Linked DNA regions of Homo sapiens. The protein of the gene in region 1 interacts with the protein of each later gene in a biochemical or structural test. Each region holds a gene or a part of one and is shown on either strand. Other genes may lie near its edges.

Region 1 (8,791 bases):
AGGCTGGTCTCGTATTCCTGGGCTCAAGTGATCTAACTGCCTCAGCCTCCCAAAGTGCTAGAATTATAGGCATGAGCCACTGCGCCCAGCTAGCCTCTGGATTCTTAAGGTATATTGGCTTGTAGTTTTCGTTTCTTGTGTCTTTATCTGGCTTTAGTATCAGAGTAATGCTGGTTTCTTAAAATGAGTTAGGAAGTGTTTCCTCCTCTCCTATTTTTGGAAGAGTTTGAGAATGATTGGTGGTAATTTATTTTTAAATGTTTGGTAGAAAACACCGCATGTTCTCACTCATAAGTGGGAGTTGAACAATGAGAACACATTGACGCAGGGAAGTGAACATCACCCACCAGGGCCTGTCAGGTGGTGGGGGCTAGGGAAGGGATAGCATTAGGAGAAATACCTAATGTAGGTGGCGGGTTGATGGGTGCAGGAAACCAGCATGGCACGTGTATACCTATGTAACAAAACTGCACATTCTGCACTGTACCCCAGGACTTAAAATATAATAAAAAAATATAATAAATACAATAAATAAAAGTCTCCAAGAAAGAAAAAAATGTTTGGTAGAATTTACTGTAAAACTATTAGGCCTGGACTTTACTTGTTTGGAGGAGTTTTGATTATTAATTCAATTTCTTTACTTGTTGTAGGTATGTTCAGATTTTCTATTTCTCATTGAGTGAATTAGGTAAATTTTGCGTGCCTGGGAATTTGTCCATATCCTCTAGGTTACCTAATTGGTTGGCAAACAATTGTTCATAGTTTTCTCTCATAGTCCTTTTTATTTCTGTAAGGTAGATAGTAAGGTCCCCACTTTCATTTCTGATTTAAGTTATTTTCATCTTCTTTTTGTTTTAGTTTAGCTAAGGATTCGTCAATTTTATTAATCTTTTCAAAGAACTAACTTTCAGTTTCATTGATTTTCTCTTTTCTGATCTTGGTAATTTCCTCCCTTCTGCTAGTTTTGGGTTTGATTTGTTCTTCTTTTACTAGTTCCTTAAAGGGTAGAGTTGGGATAATGATTTGAGATCTCTCTCTCTCTTTTTTTTTTTTTTTTTTTTGAGATGGAGTCTCACTCTGTCACCCAGGCTGGAGTGCAGTGGCATGATCTTGGCTCACTACAACCTCTGCCTCCTGGGTTCAAGCGATTCTCCTGCCTCAGCCGCCTGAGTAGCTGAGATTACAGGTGCCCGCCATCACGTCGGGCTATTTTTTTTTTTTTTTTTTTTGTATTTTTAGCAGACGGGGTTTCACCGTGTTGGCCAGGCTGGTCTTGAACTCCTAACCTCGTGATCCACCCGCCTCAGCCTCCCAAAGTGCTGGGATTACAGGCATGAGCCACGGCACCAGGCCTCTCTCTTTTTCTCTTTTGTAGCCATGTAGCTATAAATTATCCTTTGAGAACTGTTTTTGCTGCATCCCCTAAGTTTTGGCATGTTGTATCTTTTATTTGTCTCGAAGTATTTTCTAATTTCCCTTGTGATTTCTTCTTTGTCCCACTAGTTGTTTAAGTGTATGTTGTTTAATTTCTGCATATTTGTGAATATTCCAGTTCTCTTTCTGTTATTTATTTCTAGTTTTATTCTATTGTGGTCAAAGAAGATGCTTTGTATGATTTTGATCTGTTTAAATTTATTGAGCAAAATATATCTTCATTTCTCTTGAGAAAATGTCCTTTTTGACTCATGAATTATTTAGAAGCATATTATTTGACATGTGATTTGCAAACATTTTCTCCCAATCTGTAACTTGTCTTTTCATCCCCTTAAAAGGGTCTTTGCAGAGCAAGTTTCAAATTTTGATCAAGTCTGATTTATCATTTTTTAATTTTAAGAATAATGGCTTTGGGGCCAGGCGCAGTGGCTCATGCCTGTAATCCCAGCACTTTGGGAGGCCAAGGCAGGTAGATCACTTGAGGTCAGGAGTTCGAGACCAGCCTGGCCAACATGCTAAAACTCCATCTCTACTAAAAATACAAAAAAAAACTAGCCAAGCGTGGTGGCACATGCCTGTAGTCCCAGCTTGTTGGAAGGCTGAGGCAGGAGAATTGTTTGAGCCCTGGAGGTGGAGGTTGCAGTAAGCTGAGATCACAGCACTGCACTACAGCCTGGCAACAGAGGGAGACTCCGTCTCAAAAAAAAAAAAAAGAAAGAAAAAGAAAAGAAGAAAGAATAATAATGGCTTTGATGTTATGCCTAAGAATTCTTCGCCTAGCCTTAGGTTCTGAAGATTTTCTTCTACATGTTCTACAAGTTTTTTTTTTTTTCAAATGTTTGTGATTTTTTTTTTCAAATGGCAACTCCAAGATAAAGCCAAAGAAACTGGGAATTATTTTTAATATTGTACAATTTTTAGTATGAATAGCCATTCTTATTAAATAGACTCATTTGGCCAGGCAAGGTGGCTCAAGCTCGTAATCCCAACACTTTGGGGGGCCAAGGCATGAGGATTGCTTGAGTTCAGAAGTTCAAGATCAGCCTCAGCAACACAGGGAGACCTCTGTCTCTACTAAAAATAAAAACATTTTAAAGGGCTCATTTAAACTTTTTTCTTTTCTTTTTTTTTTTTTTTTTTTTTGAGACGGAGTCTCACTCTGCCACCCAGGCTGGTGTGCAATGGCGCGATCTCGGCTCACTGCAAGCTCCGCCTCCTGGGTTCACATCGTTCTCCTGCCTCAGCCTCCCGAGTAGCTGGGACTACAGGCACCCGCCACCACATCCGGCTAATTTTTTTTTGTATTTTTAGTAGAGATGGGGTTTCACCGTGTTAGCCAGGATGGTCTTAATCTCCTGACCTCGTGATCCGCCCACCTCGGCCTCCCAAAGTGCTGGGATTACAGGCGTGAGCCACTGCGACCGGCCCTAAACTTTTTTCAAACATTTACATTTTCTCAACAGGAAATGTCCTTTCATTCTGCACAGTTCTCTCTGCTTTCTTCTAAAAGGTTCCTTGTTTTACATTTTACATTTAAATCTCTGATCCATTCAGGCAATTTTTGCATAGAATATGAGGTTTAGGTGAAGTTCATTTTTTTGTTCAGTTACTCCACCACCATTTGAACACCACCTATCTGGCAAAGGATTAATATCTAGAATATTTAAACTCTCAAAACTCAAGTTTTTTAAAAAGAATTCAACTAAAAATGGGCAAAAGACATGGACAGACATTTCACCAATGAGGCTATACAGATGGCAAACAAGCACATGAAAACATGTCCATCATCACCAGGCACTAAAGAAATGCCAATTAAAACCATGATGAGACCAGGCGCAGTGGCTCATGCCTATAATCCCAGCACTTTGGGAGGCCAAGGTGGGTGGATCACCTGAGGTCAGGAGTTCGAGACCAGTCTGGCCAATATGGCGAAACGCTGTCTCTACTAAAAATACAAAAAATAGACAGGTGTGGTGGTGCACGCCTGTAGTCCCAGCTACTTGGGAGGCTGAGGCTGGAGAATCGCTTGAACCCAGGAGGTGGAGGTTGCAGTGAGCTGAGATGGCGCCACTGCACTCCAGCCTGGGCAACAGAGTAAGACTCTATCTCAAAACAAAACAAAACAAAAAACCATGATGATATATCACTATTCACCTGTTAGAATAGCTAAAAATTCAGGCAGGGACAAAATAAAATGCTGCTGAGGATGCAGAGAAACTGAATGTCTTGTACATTGATGGTGGGACAGTAAAAAAAAAAAAAAAGAAAAGAAAAGAAAAAAACTTCCAAAAGGTTATACATTGTATGATTTTGTTTATAGCAGATCAGTATACCCATCCTGCAGCTGCTATGAGTGTTGACAGCTAAACACTCACACAGCTTCCCCCTCGTCCAGAAGAATTGCCCTGGGCAGAAAGGAGGCTGCCTCTTGTTCCAGACCTTCACATTCCAGACCTCCCCATGGAGCCTCCACTGACTACATACTTGTTTCACTTTTTCTTCCTCTGCCCTATCATACCCACCACTCTCCTAAGAGTCTTCCTTCAATAAATCACAGGCACCTGTGTTACTTGTTGAAGGTGTCCAGGTTCTTGGCATCTTGAACAAAGAAATGGGCAAAATGCACAAAGCAAGGAAAGAATGAGGCAACAAAAGCAGAGATGTATTGAAAACAAAGGTACACTCCACAGGGTGGGAGCCAGCGTGAGCATAGGGGCTCAAGAACTCCGTTACAGAATTTTCTGGGATTTAAATACCCTCTAGAGGCTCCCATTGGTTAATTGGTGTACACCCTATGTAAATGAAGAAGATGAAGTGAAGTTGCTCAGTCACTTACTCAGTGAACGCCATATGTAAATGAAGAAAATATTTCCTGTCATAGCTGAAATGTGTCCATTTTATTTAGTTCTAAGAAGTCAGCGTGAATCAGCTTTATGTTCCCTGCCTGCAGACCCTATTCTCCTGCCTCACCTCAATCTCTTCACCTAAGACAGGAAGAAAACTGATGATGCAGGAGACGAAGAACAATAGCAAGGCGAAGAAATGAATCTCCAAGGCCGGCTTCAAGCGATTCTCCCCTCTCAGGCTCCCGAGTAGCTGGGATTACAGGCATGCACCACCACGCCTGGCTAATTTTTGTATTTTTAGTAGAGACAGGGTTTCCCCATGTTGGCCAGGATGGTCTTGAACTCCTGACCTCAGGTGATCTGGCCACCTCCGCCTCCCAAAGTGCTGGAATTACAGGCATGAGCCACCACACCCAGCTCCCAGTTCTGTTCTTTTAGAGGCAAATAGTCTGTTGAGTAAATGCATAACACTACTTAGACTTTCTAGCTGAAGATGTAGTTAATCTTAAGAAAACCTGACTCACACTGTAACAGGATGTTCTGCAATGACCTTAGAAGAGGAAGTGACTTTTTTCCCACTTTGGTGTCTCTTCCCTCGTACCCTCCCCACCCCGCCAATATTATCCAGCACAGAGAAGCAAACACCAGAAGCTTCTCTCCAACTTTCAGTTTTTCTCTAAACTTCCAGTCCTTCTCATACTGTGTCCTGGTTATAATAGTTGCTGGGACCTTATTCTATTCTGAATCCCCAGCCCCTAAAGAAGGCTTGGTACTGACGTGTACAGCGTAGTTACCCAGTGACTTTGGGGAAGGCAGGAAGAGTGTGGAAAGGACAGGAGGAAGGAAGGGAGGGGCCGTGGCTCCGAGCTGCCTAGAAAGCGGCTCCAGGGAGCCAGGGCACCGTGAGCCTGGTGGTTGGCAGCTGGAGCCACGTCGGAGGGGGAAGTGTCGCAGCATTCTCTGCAGGCATCACAGACCTGAGGCAGTGGCCTCCGGAGGGCACTGGACAGAAACAGCCATCCAAGTGGCTGAGTGGAGGGACCCTGCTCAAGTGCAGCTGCAGTGGCCGGGGTTTCCCTCAGGTAGGGATCGGGGCGCCTTGTCGCCGCCAGCCACGTGTGGCGTCCGGTACAGTCAGCAGAGTGCAGGGTGCGGGCACCAGGAAAGGGGGCGCAGGGGAACTCCCGCGGGCCTCGCGTTTGCAAACTTCTCGCCTGGGCAGGAGGCGGTCGTGGGAAAGAAGGTGGAAGAGCGAGCTTTTTGGAACTGTGCACGGGACAGATTGGACGCACACCCCTCGGGAGGCGCGAAGGTGAGCATGGGGTCTTCCCAGGAGGCGGCGGGGCCGAGGGGCTGCAGCCGAATTCCTGGACGGTGATGGGAAGAACCAGGGGTGAGGGTGGCCCGGTCCGAGTTCCTGGAACTCAGGACCGAGTTGGTTTCATTTCCTCAGCTCTGATGGTGGAGCTGCCTGCTCGGATCTCGCACTACCTTCCGCCAAAGCGAGACGCCCAGTAGCAGTGGGGGTCGTGGAGGGCAGGGGCACGGGAACAAGTTACCTGATGTCTTCTCAGAAAAAGGAAGTCTTCAGGTTTGCAGGCTGAAGGCGTGAGAGAGAGACAGAGTGAGAGAGAGAGAAGAGGGAAATGCCTGATAACCTTTACTTATTTTATTTTATTTTTATTTTTTATTTTTTGGAGGGAAGAGGTGAATTTGCATTGTTATTACCATTTAAAGATTTTTCACTTTTAAAATTAGTAACCTGTTTTCTCATCGTAACATATGAACATAATCCCCTTTTTCTTTTTATTTATTTATTTTGAGAGATGGAGTCTTCCTCTGTTGCCCAGGCTGGAGCGCAGTGGCACAATCATAGCTCACTGCAGCCTCCGAACTCATGGGCTCAAGTGATCCTCCAACCAGATCCTCCCAAGTAGCTAGGACTACAAGGTGCACATCACCACACCCAATTAAATTTTTTTTGTATTTTTTGGTAGAGCCAGGGTCTCGCTTTGTCACCCAGGCTGGTCTCAAACTCCTGGGCTCAGGTGATCCTCCTACCTCACCCTCCCAAAGTGCTGGGATTACAGGTGTGAGCCACTGCAGCTGGCCTGAACATATTCTTAGCTGTTTGTTTTACATATTATAAATAGCACTGCAGTGAACATCTCGGTAGCCATCTATCTACAAACACAAGCTTTTCTACATCATAAGTTCCTAGAAATTCAAATTGCCCAGTCTAAGTGTGTATATATGTATATTCCCTTTCTTCCCTTGTAGATCATATACTTAATAAGACCTTAAACAATTTAAGTTATTGTAGGGTGCTTTTTCCCAATATTTTGCAGTTTTTAATATATTTTAATTTCATACAGGCAAGTCCCCTTTTCTTTATTTTTTAAAATCCTGGTTATCCCTACTAATTTCCCATTTCAAATGAACTTTAGGATCATTTTGATTTAATGCCAAAATATGTCAGTAGATGTTTTATTGGAACTGCATTAAATTGGATTTAAATTTGGGAAGGATTGCTGGGTTGGTCTGTTTTAGTCTTCCCAGCCAGAAATATAACACTTCTCTTTCCTCCTTTCTTCAAGCTTTGTTTTGTGCAATTTTCTTTCTTTCTTTTTTTTTGTTTTTGTTTTTGTTTTTGAGACGGAGTTTTGCTCTGTTGCCCAGGTTGGAGCACAGTGGTGTGATCTCGGCTCAGTGCAACCTCCACCTCCCGGGTTCAAGCAATTCTCCTGCCTCAGCCTCCCGAGTAGCTGGGATTACAGGCGCCTGCTACCATGCTTGGCTAATTTTAGTATTTTTAGTAGAGATGGGGTTTCACCATGTTGGCCGGGCGATCTCAAACTCCCGACCTCAGGTGATCCACCTGCCTCGGCCTTCCAAAGCGCTGAGATTACAGGCATGAGCCAATGTGACCGCTGCAATTTTCTTCATACCATGCCACCACTGTATAATTTATTATTTGAAATTGTTTGTCAGTTCTATGGGTGGGATATTTTCCCCATTTTCCTTTCTGATTAGTTCAGTGCTGAGATATGGCTTTCTGATGAGGCTGCTGGTAAGATAACTGGAGCTTAGAGCTAGGAAGCTACAATTTGCAAGATTCCTTGAACAACATTGCCACATTTGCTTCTGTTTCTGGTGCAACAGAGAAAGTGTAAAACCTTTTGCCCTCACAATTCCCAAGAAATGGCCTTGAAGATATCTGCTTAGCACGTGGGAATAGCTGGGTAGTCTGAGATCCACTAGTCTTTTTAGGAGTGCCCTAATAACTGTTACCTCCCTTGCCCAATCACTGTAACTCTCAGGCAACAAAAACACAACTATATCGATTGCTCATTTATTTAGTTTCACTTCTGCCAGTGCCTTACTCATGTTTTAAAGCCATACTTGGGCTCCAGGCCAATTATTTTCTCCAAGCTGCTAATTAATCCATAAACTGGCGATAATACTTAACCTACCTATTTCACTGAGCTGTTAAAAAAAAAAAAACTAACTTTGTTTTTTGTTGTCGTTTGTTAGTGGTGGTGGTGGTGGTGTTTTTGAGACACTGTCTCATTCTGTTGCCCATGCTGGAATGGAGTCAGTGGCACAATCATGGCTCACTGCAGCCTCGACCTCCCAGCCTCAATCAATTCTCCCTCCTCAGGCTCCAGAGTAGCTGGGACTACAGGCAAGCACCACCACATCCAGCAAATTTTTGTATTTTTTTGTAGAGACAGGGTTTCACCATGTTGCCCAGGCTGGTCTCGAACTCAGGCTCATACGATCCCCTGGCCTCAGCCTCACAAAGTGCTGGGATTACAGGTTTGAGTCATGACACCCTACCCTAACTTTATTTTAAATACTTTGAAAACTGGTTCCATGGCCTTGTGATTATTTGAATGCAACCTCCCTGAACCGCAGCATCTTCACTTTTCACCTGTTTGTTTTTTCGAGACAGGGTCTCTCTGTTTCCCTGGCTGGAGTGCAGTGGTGTCATCATAGCTCACTGCAGCCTCAACCTCCCAGGCTCAAGCGATTCTCCCGCCTCAGCCTCCTGAGTAGCTGGGACTACAGGTCCCAGCTAATTTTTGTATTTTTAGTAGAGATGGGTCTCGCTGTGTTGCCCAGAATGGAACTCCTGGCCTCAAGCAATCTTCCCACCTCTACCTCCCAAAATGTTGGGATTACGGGTATGAACTACTGTGCCCAGATGGTATCTTCATCTGTTAAATGAAAATAACCATGGAGAGCTGGGGGTTCCAAAGCACTTAGGATGTAGTAGGTGAATTGAGAGATCTAGTGTCATAATTATTATCATCATTCATTGCTGAACGCAGTCGGCTTCAGTTGCAAATAAAGCAAACATGATTCAAACTGCCTTAAACAATCAGGGAGGTTATTGGTTCATGAAACCTGCAGTTAGGGGATGGGGTACACTTCATGTCAGTTCAAACCAGTGGCTCAATGTTGTCATCAAAGACTCAGATTCTTTCTCCCTTTCCATTCTACCATGC
Region 2 (8,971 bases), about 24 Mb from region 1:
TATAATCTATTTTGAGTTAATTTGGTATAAGTTGTGAGACTTAAGTAGAATTTTTTTTTAAAAAATCTATGGATATCTAATTGTTCCATCACTATTTGTTGAAAAGACTCTTTCTTCCATTGAATTATTTTTCTACCTTTGTCAAAATTCAGTTGGGTATATTTATGTGGGTCTATTTCTTGGTTCTCCATTCTGTTCCATTGATCTGTGTGTCTGTCCTACTGCCCATACCACAGTCTCGATCACTGCGGCTAACTAGTAAGTCTTGCAATCTATTAAACTAATTCCTCCTACTTTATTCTTTTCCAAAATTATTTTAGTTATTCTAGATCTTTTGCCTTTCCATATGCATTTTAGAGTAATCTTGTGTACATCTATACAAAATCTTCTTGAGATTTTGATAGGAATTACATTAAACCTGTATATAACTTTGGGGAGAATTGATATCCTTTGGCTAGAGAGAGCAAAACTTTGGTTGGGGCCTTCTTTTGTCTATGCCTATTGATGTTTCCAGGGTGCTGATTTTTTTATCTCTAAGTATGGGATAAGAATGTAGTCAAGAAGAAAACCCAGAGGGAAATCTCTGTGATGTTATTTCTTAGGTCTTGAGGTTCCTAGCTGGTCTACCTTCTCATCTCTACCTTTCAAAGTCTTCTTATATTTGTTTTATATATTATGTCTAGAGATTTTAGTTGTACTTAGCAAAAGAAATAGGAAGTACATCTACTTTATCTTCCCAGAAGTAGAAGTTGCACCTTCCTTTTTAACTTAACAATAGATATTAGAGATTATTTCATATTAGTACATAAGTTGTATACTTGGTCTTTTGTTTAAATCATTGAATTATATTTCATTTTATGCATGTACCATAATTTTTGAACCAGCCTCCTACTGATGAGCATTTAGGTTGTTTTCAATCTTTTGCTGTTATAAACAGTGCTTCAGTGAATAACTTTGTATCTGTGTATCAGTTAGCATGTGTGCCAGTATAAAAAGATAACTTCCTAGGAGTAGAATTGCTATGCATTTTACATTTTGATAGACAGTAATACATGGCTTTCATAGAGATTGCTTGTCAATCGGAGTCACCATGAATGTTGCCTGTATAGGCAGTACTCCTGGTCCTATGAGACAGTTAGAGCTGGAGCCCTGAAGAAGGATAATTTGAAGCACCAGATATCAGCATGCAACTTTTGGTGTTATCTATATGGCACCTTCAAGCATTTCTTGAAGAATTTTTCATATACTATTATGGAAAATATTTATTCTGAGCAGGAACCCAACCTTTTAGAGATTTTTGAATAGTTGCTATGTAGGATATTTCTGGCATCGGGTTTAATAATACCTCATTCTACTCAAGTAAACTGTATTTTCTTCACAAGATTTCTGTGGATGTTAAATTCTCATTTGAGTCTGAATTATGCTCTTGTGGCTGCTGATGTTAAGCGGTACATTAATTAAACAATTTCTCTTAATTTACTGGGTCATTCAAATTCATAGACATTTCATTTGATTTGAACAATAACTTGTTCACTAGTTTATTGTTATGATTTCCTGCTCAAGATTCTCCAAGGGATTTTTCTTTTTCTGGTTAAATCAACAAGTGATGGATAAGCTGTGAATTTTATCATTTAAATGCAATCTTGCTGTGTATACATAATGGATACTTTTGGTTTGGTTTCTTTTGCTGAACACAATGTCCATGTTGCCCTGTTTATCAGTAGTTTGTTCCTTTTTTATTGCTATGTAGTATTCCATTGTATGAATAGACCATAATTTGTTTCTCTATTCTTCTGTAGAATAGCTTGTTTCCAGCTTTTGATTAGAATGAATAGGGCTGCTCTGTACATTTTTACTCATGCTGTTTGGTGGAATTATCTTCTATATCTTTTAATATCTTTAATCAGGTTTGTTTTAATCACACAAAATTGCCAGCTGAATTTATCTTACCTTGCTTTCCATCCCATATTTATCTTTTTCTGAGTTGGTAATCACTTATAATTCATTTAACTTTGAAAGCTTTGCTTCATGACCCAAGTAGTTTTGGGCCATGAACACAGTTGTGACAAAGTAATAAGAAATATTTGGTGTGTAATTGCTGGAGGGCAATTAGAGGTGGTTTGTGCCCCTTTGTCTGTATAGAATTCTGATGGAATGTCTTCTTCTTCAGAGCTGATATTTGACCCCCTCTCAGACAGCCTTTGACAGAAGGTAGCCACAGTTTCCAACTCCAGTGCCCCCCTGCTCACATTCCTAATCTTTGGAGCTCCTCCCTAGTGTCACCTGCAGAACTGTCACCACCGGCCATCCAGTTGGCTCTCCAGTCCTGCCAGGCTACCTTCAAAGCCTAACAAAGGGAAGAGCACTTGCTTCATTTGTTATAATGGTTACTAACTATATAATGGATCTATATCGTGGTATACATGTGAACATACTTTAAAAATGTTATATGCAGTTAATTACAGTTAATAGTGGGAGTTGTTTTTCTTTAGGAAATTTATATGCTATAATTTAGGAACTCTTCTCAGTGACTAAGATTTTCCTTCTGAAGTATCTGTCATGGGTGCTATTTAAAGATATCTGAATGACAACATCATAAAAGAACAGTGGTCTCCTCTTTCATCAAGGGATACTTCCAAGACCCCCAGTGGATACCTGAAACTATGGATAGTACTGAACCCTACGTATACTGTGTTTTTCCTCTACATTCATGCCTCTGATAAAGTTTAATTTATATATTAGGCACAATAAGATATTGAAAACAATAATCAGAGAAGAGACAATAATAACAATATGGCAACATCACTACTCGTGTACTTCAGGACTATTATTAAGTAAAATAAGGGTGACTTGAATGTAAGCACTGTGATACTGCAATAGTTGATCTGATGACTGAGGTGGCTACTAAGTGACTAACAAGGCAGGGAGTAGACACAGTGTGGAGATGCTGGACGGGGATGGGTTACGTCAGGGGTTATGGATTAGGATGGTGCAAGATTTCGTTATAATACTCAAAACAGCATGCAACTTAAAACTTACGAATTGTCTGTTTCTGCAATTTTTTATTTAATATTTTTGGACAGTGGTTGACTGTGGGTAACTGATACCGTGGAAGGTAAAAGTGTGGATAAGTGGGGACCACAGTATTAGTACATAGCTTTTCTCTTATTATATCACTTGATCGAAATCGTGGTTAATTGGTATAATTTTTGAATTAAAATATTTTCATATTCTATTGGATCATATTATGAGATGTTTAAGATATAGTTTAATAACACATCCCCCTCCTCTTTCAACCATGGAAAAAAGTTACCAAGTATTTACATATAATTCATTTAGTAAATTTCCTCTTTTTTTAAGAAAAGTCTTTTCCTTGTGTTTAAAATGTAAAAATTTTCCTATTTCTTTCTTTCTGTCCTCAAATCCACTGTGGGTGATATCGTTTTTGCTGACACACAGCTTTATCAGGTATGACTCCTAAGTGTCGTGTTGGACTCCACGGATGTATTGTTGAATTTTTCAAAGGAAGAACTTTTCACACTGCCTCTTCTACATTCCCTTGATCAGTATTTAGGAGTATTCTATGATCATTGCTGGGCTTTAAGGTCTAGAGTGGTCTTTGTATTCAAAACAAGTTTGCCACACTTATTACACCTATATTTCAGAAATAATTGTGAGTGTTTTCTTCAAATATATTATTGTTGTGTGTCTCTGGCTTTCTGTATTTTTAATCTATGCATAATTCTCTATGTTTTCCTCTTTTATATGTATAAGTGTTTGTATACACATCTGTGTTATTCTTAACATATATGTTTTTAAAAACAGATATATGTTCTTAACCAGAACTTTCTTTCCTAACCATGATACATATTCCTAACCAGGCTTTTTTCAAACTGTGTTCATGAAATAATATTAATCTGAGATGCTAAGCAAAGTGGCACAAAAATTTTTATCAATAAGTTTATTTTGTTTCTCCCTGAGCAGTTCACAATGCACATTAGCATATTAAAGGCTCTGGTTCCGTGCAGTAAAGAAATTGTTTATCTTTGTTTATCTCAGCATCTTCAAGAAATATTTGAGTTCGAAACACTTCATAATACACAGGGGTGTTCTAAGCCTGCTGATTTGGGAAATGCTGTAAAAAACCGAGTAAGATTTTCTTTGTAGTGTTTTAAGAGATCAAATAAAATTGACTACAAGTGATTAAATTTTCAAGAGGTTAAAGCATTTAGCTGAATTGTATTTTGAGAGGGTATTTTCTTATAGAAATTACATTTTGAAATACAGCATTGGTTTTTTCCCCCATAGTATTATCTTTTTCAATACTTTTGATGGCCTTTAAAAGGCATTTGTAAAACTAAAAATTCTGCCTTTTTGTGGAAAGAGGGTTTTTTTATTTTGTTACTGTCATTCCTTGTTTCTCTTCTATAAGAATTTGCCTTTATCTTTAAAAAACATGCTTACTGTTTCAGAGAGTGTGACGCAGGAAAGGAGGCCTCCCAAACTTGCCTTTATGTCAAGAGGTGTTGGGGACAAAGGTTCATCCAGTCATAATAAACCAAAGGCTACAGGTATGGATTAATAGCATATAACCTTTAGTAATTTGCATAATGCCTAACTTGCCATAGCATTAAAAAAGATTATAAGCTATTACTTCTGAACATGTATGTAGACTTTTTTTCTTTCAAACATTTTTAGTAGTGAAACTAAAGTTTGTATATAAATACTGTTGCTTAAGCCAAGTGTTCCCAGCCTTTTTTACCTCAGGAAGAGTTCCCCATAGGGTCTTGTGTGTTTTGCTGGTCTATAATCAAATGGTTTTTGGAACTCCTTACTTGGAATATTTGTATGTATAGTTTAGGATTGCAACTGTGTAAAATAATCCTATATGGATAATGTTATATAGGATAAAGTATACTAGAGGTTAATTAAATGGATTTTGCTAACTAGATTTGGTACAAATTAAATCCCAAACTGCTAAGCAAAAATTTCTTCTCTTTCCCAGAAGCTTCCTCACAATATGTGTGGAGCTTACAGCTCTTTTTTTTGTTAGCTTCCACATACTTCATAGATTTATAGAATAGTAGTTATACAAGCCAAAGAGCTCATTAAAAAGGCTCTGAGAATTTTTGTTAACTCAGATGCGAGTTAGGAAAAGAATATTTTTTCCTCAATTATTACAATTTTGGCTCATTTAAAAGGAAATTGTACTTTAAGAATTATTTTATGTGACATTGGGGCCTGGGAGACTTAGGATTAATTGCAGGATATATAGGTAACAGTCTTTTTTATGTTAACCTATAGATCTATATAGGATAGCTCAAACTTGCTACTCTCACTTAAATAGAAACAGACTAAAGATTTTCTTAAGCTATGGCATGTTAATTGTATTGTAGTAGATCTTAAAGTTATAAAATGTACAGCTACCTGCTTTAATTTGAAAAGGGAAATCAGCTTTTTTGTGGGTTCTGGAGAGCCCACTGCCCTCCACTGTGTGTGGTATGTCCTTGAATTAATACTGAGGCAGGGTAATGTCATGAAATGGCTGTGGCATAGCTACACTCGCCCTCTCACGTATAATAAATCCAATCTGTAAGAAATAATAGTGCTTGATTTTTTCAAAGACACAAGGAATTTGATGACCAAAAATTCCAAAATGTTTAAAACTTAACTATTTTTAAATGTAATTTGTGTATTGATTTATATATAGAATTTGAGGATTACCTTCTTTTAAAATAATAGGTTAAATTTGTGAACCAATGGGTCTATGAAATGAAGCTGGAGAATGGTGATTTTGACATTTAGAAATAAGCTGTGGTACATGGAACAATTTCTTAAAGCAGTTCATTTTTTTTAAAAATGAGTGGGCTTTTCTTTTAACTTACTCCTGTTTCCCTCCTATCTTGACTTTTGGGCTGAAAAATATTTTTAATATTGTCAAAATGGTTACCAAATTTTTAAAAGCTGAAGACAGTTAAAAAACATATTGTGTTTATATACATTTATTGGTTATGTAAACAGTTATTAACATCATATTCATAATAATTTCTCTTACTAAAAAAAAACTTTGATGCTATATTGACTTTATTTTTAAATGAAACTTTTCTTGTTCCTATAGGATCTACCTCAGACCCTGGAAATAGAAACAGATCTGAATTATTTTATACCTTAAATGGGTCTTCTGTTGACTCACAACCACAATCCAAATCAAAAAATACATGGTACATTGATGAAGGTAATCAGTAATTTTAGTGTTCTTTATAATGATCCTTTCTTTCTAACTCATCAGAGAAAAATGGTTTTTTATATCAATATTTGTAGTTTTTGGAAACAGAATAAGTAGACCGCTCTTTGTAATATTGCTGAACTAAAATATTGTACACAGTTTGAACCGTACTGCTGTTAAGATTATTAAAATGTTTAAGAAATGTATTAGTAATTTGTTCTTTTCCTTTAACTGCTGATCTATTTAGGGTGGAAGATTTCTGTCTGGTTCCTTCCTGACCTCTTTAAAGCACTCCCTTTTAAAAAATTTTATCTTCCCTTGGTCCTGGGACATCATTTTCACCTAGTTTATTCTCTTCTTTGTTCATTTGTTCAACAAATATTTATTGAGTGCTTATGATTGCCAGGCATTCTTTTAGGCATCAAGATGAAAATGGTGAGAAAAAATAGACATGGTTCATGCCCTTTGTGAGTTTGCAGTTGTTAAGTTGTTGAGATAGAAATTAGTCAAACAACCACAGACACAGTAGAGTTGCCTTGGTGGTGTGTGCAGTGAAGGTGCATGATGCTGTGAGAATACACCAAAGATGATTTTTCTCAGGGTCTTAGGGGTGTTTCTTTGGGGCAGTGACACATGCTTAGGTTTACCAGAGGAGTGACAGATGACAAAGTGAAAGGGGCTAGAACTTCCTCGGGAGAAGAAATAGCATAGGGAAAGTCCTCCTGGAAGAATGGAAGCTAGTGTTTGCCAGGGACTAGAACACAGACAGAGGCATGACATTCATGAGATGAGAATGGAAAGGCAAACAGGCCTGACTCTGTGGTCTCCCAGCCTTTAGAGTTTTGCCTGCCACATTTGTTTTTAAGGCACCTGGAGCTGATTTTCATGTAAAGTATGAGTAGGATTCCTGTTTAATTTTTTTTTAAAAATATGGATAACCAATTATCTCAACAGCATTTAGTAAGAAGTTCATTCTTTTGTCATTGATCTGCAATACCTGCCTGTCAGCTGTATTAGTCATTTTAAGAAAATAGCTTTTGGCTGTGGCTCTCTTTATCATGTGTTTGGTTTCTCTTAAATTACATTCTGTGTTTGTGTTTATTCTGGCTTTGAACTTCTTATTGTATGTTTGTTTTCTCTCTTCTGTTGTTTCTGTTCTTTAGTTTATTCTTCTCTACTTTTTTGAGGGTTATTCTGTTCTTTTAACTTCCCAAGTTGTATGCTGAGTTCATATTTAGCTTTTGTTTTTTTCTGAAATAAGCAATGAAGTCTATAAAATTCCCTTATAAGTATTAATTTAGCCATGTTTCACAAGGATTCTTTCTTTCTTTGTTACTTTTTCTCTCTTTTTTCTTTATTGTTAAAACGTATTATTTCTTTTTTGATCCATTAGATATATAGAAGCGTTTCTTAAGGTTTTCGGTATCTTTTTGTACTGCCTTCTCAATTAATTGTATTTTGGACAAAGACTATCACGTATACGATACCCGCTGATAATAGATTTTTTTGGTTTGAACAGTTGGGTGCCATTGACTGAGGTGCATAAATATGGAGGTGGAGAGAGGAGCGAGAACACTGTTGGAGATAATAACTTTGTGATGCCTATGAGAGTACTATTAATAGCAGGGAGGTCAGGTGGGCAGTTGGACTAGATCTGTATATAAATTTTTAGAAATGTAAGACAGAGTCAATATCCTTGAATACATTTCTGTAATTAGGAATAATTTTTTAGTTGCAGAAGACCCTGCAAAATCTCTTACAGAGATATCTACAGACTTTGACCGTTCTTCACCACCACTCCAGCCTCCTCCTGTGAACTCACTGACCACCGAGAACAGATTCCACTCTTTACCATTCAGTCTCACCAAGATGCCCAATACCAATGGAAGTATTGGCCACAGTCCACTTTCTCTGTCAGCCCAGTCTGTAATGGAAGAGCTAAACACTGCACCCGTCCAAGAGAGTCCACCCTTGGCCATGCCTCCTGGGAACTCACATGGTCTAGAAGTGGGCTCATTGGCTGAAGTTAAGGAGAACCCTCCTTTCTATGGGGTAATCCGTTGGATCGGTCAGCCACCAGGACTGAATGAAGTGCTCGCTGGACTGGAACTGGTAATTTAACTTGACCCAAAAATTTCAATTTTTTTCTCTGTGAGGTTTTGTGCAGATTTCGCCCTATTATATGCTTTTTGACAAACTGTTATATTTGTCAGAAAAGCTATCACTGCAGAATAATTTTCTCACCATGTTTTCTGACTTCCCTTTGCCGCCCCTGAAGCTTGCGACCCACTTGTCCTAATGTTAGTTGATTTATGTTCAAGGAATGAAAGTTGATTTTTAGGCCAATCGATTTAGGCTCCTTATATTAAACAGAATTTAGTAAATCAAGCAAATTTGCCATCAGCTTTTCTCTTTCTTCTTCAGCCCCTTCCCCTGGTCAGTTCTAATAATTATATCACTGGCTTTAAAGTTAATCACCATTTTTAGAGATCTTTTGAGACCTTTGCTAGAGGGAAAGGTTTTCCCTTTAGAGATCAGGAGAACATATCATTTGATATTTTGTAATCAGGAAAGGAGAAGTTGAGTATGTTTAGGATTTATTTAGAGATGGGGTCTCACTCTGTCACCCAGACTGGAGTGCAGTAGCACGGTCAGGGCTCACTGCAGCCTCGACCTCCTGGGCTCAAGCTATTCTCCTGCCTCAGTCACCTGAGTAGCTGGAATTACAGACATGTACCATCATGC

The links.
Region 2: of the proteins of MLKL (region 1) and CYLD, one has a biochemical effect on the other in vitro, tested with the Homo sapiens proteins (one study listed by BioGRID).

Annotation. Positions count from the first base shown.
Region 1 is NC_000016.10:74,697,254-74,706,044, reverse strand, and holds the start of MLKL (mixed lineage kinase domain-like protein), read left to right. Parts: upstream 1-5,182; 5' UTR 5,183-5,592; intron 5,593-8,791. UniProt on the Homo sapiens protein: Pseudokinase that plays a key role in TNF-induced necroptosis, a programmed cell death process. Does not have protein kinase activity.
Region 2 is NC_000016.10:50,771,707-50,780,677, forward strand, and holds part of CYLD (ubiquitin carboxyl-terminal hydrolase CYLD), read left to right. Parts: intron 1-3,459; coding exon 3,460-3,468; intron 3,469-4,472; coding exon 4,473-4,571; intron 4,572-6,118; coding exon 6,119-6,235; intron 6,236-7,958; coding exon 7,959-8,338; intron 8,339-8,971. UniProt on the Homo sapiens protein: Deubiquitinase that specifically cleaves 'Lys-63'- and linear 'Met-1'-linked polyubiquitin chains and is involved in NF-kappa-B activation and TNF-alpha-induced necroptosis.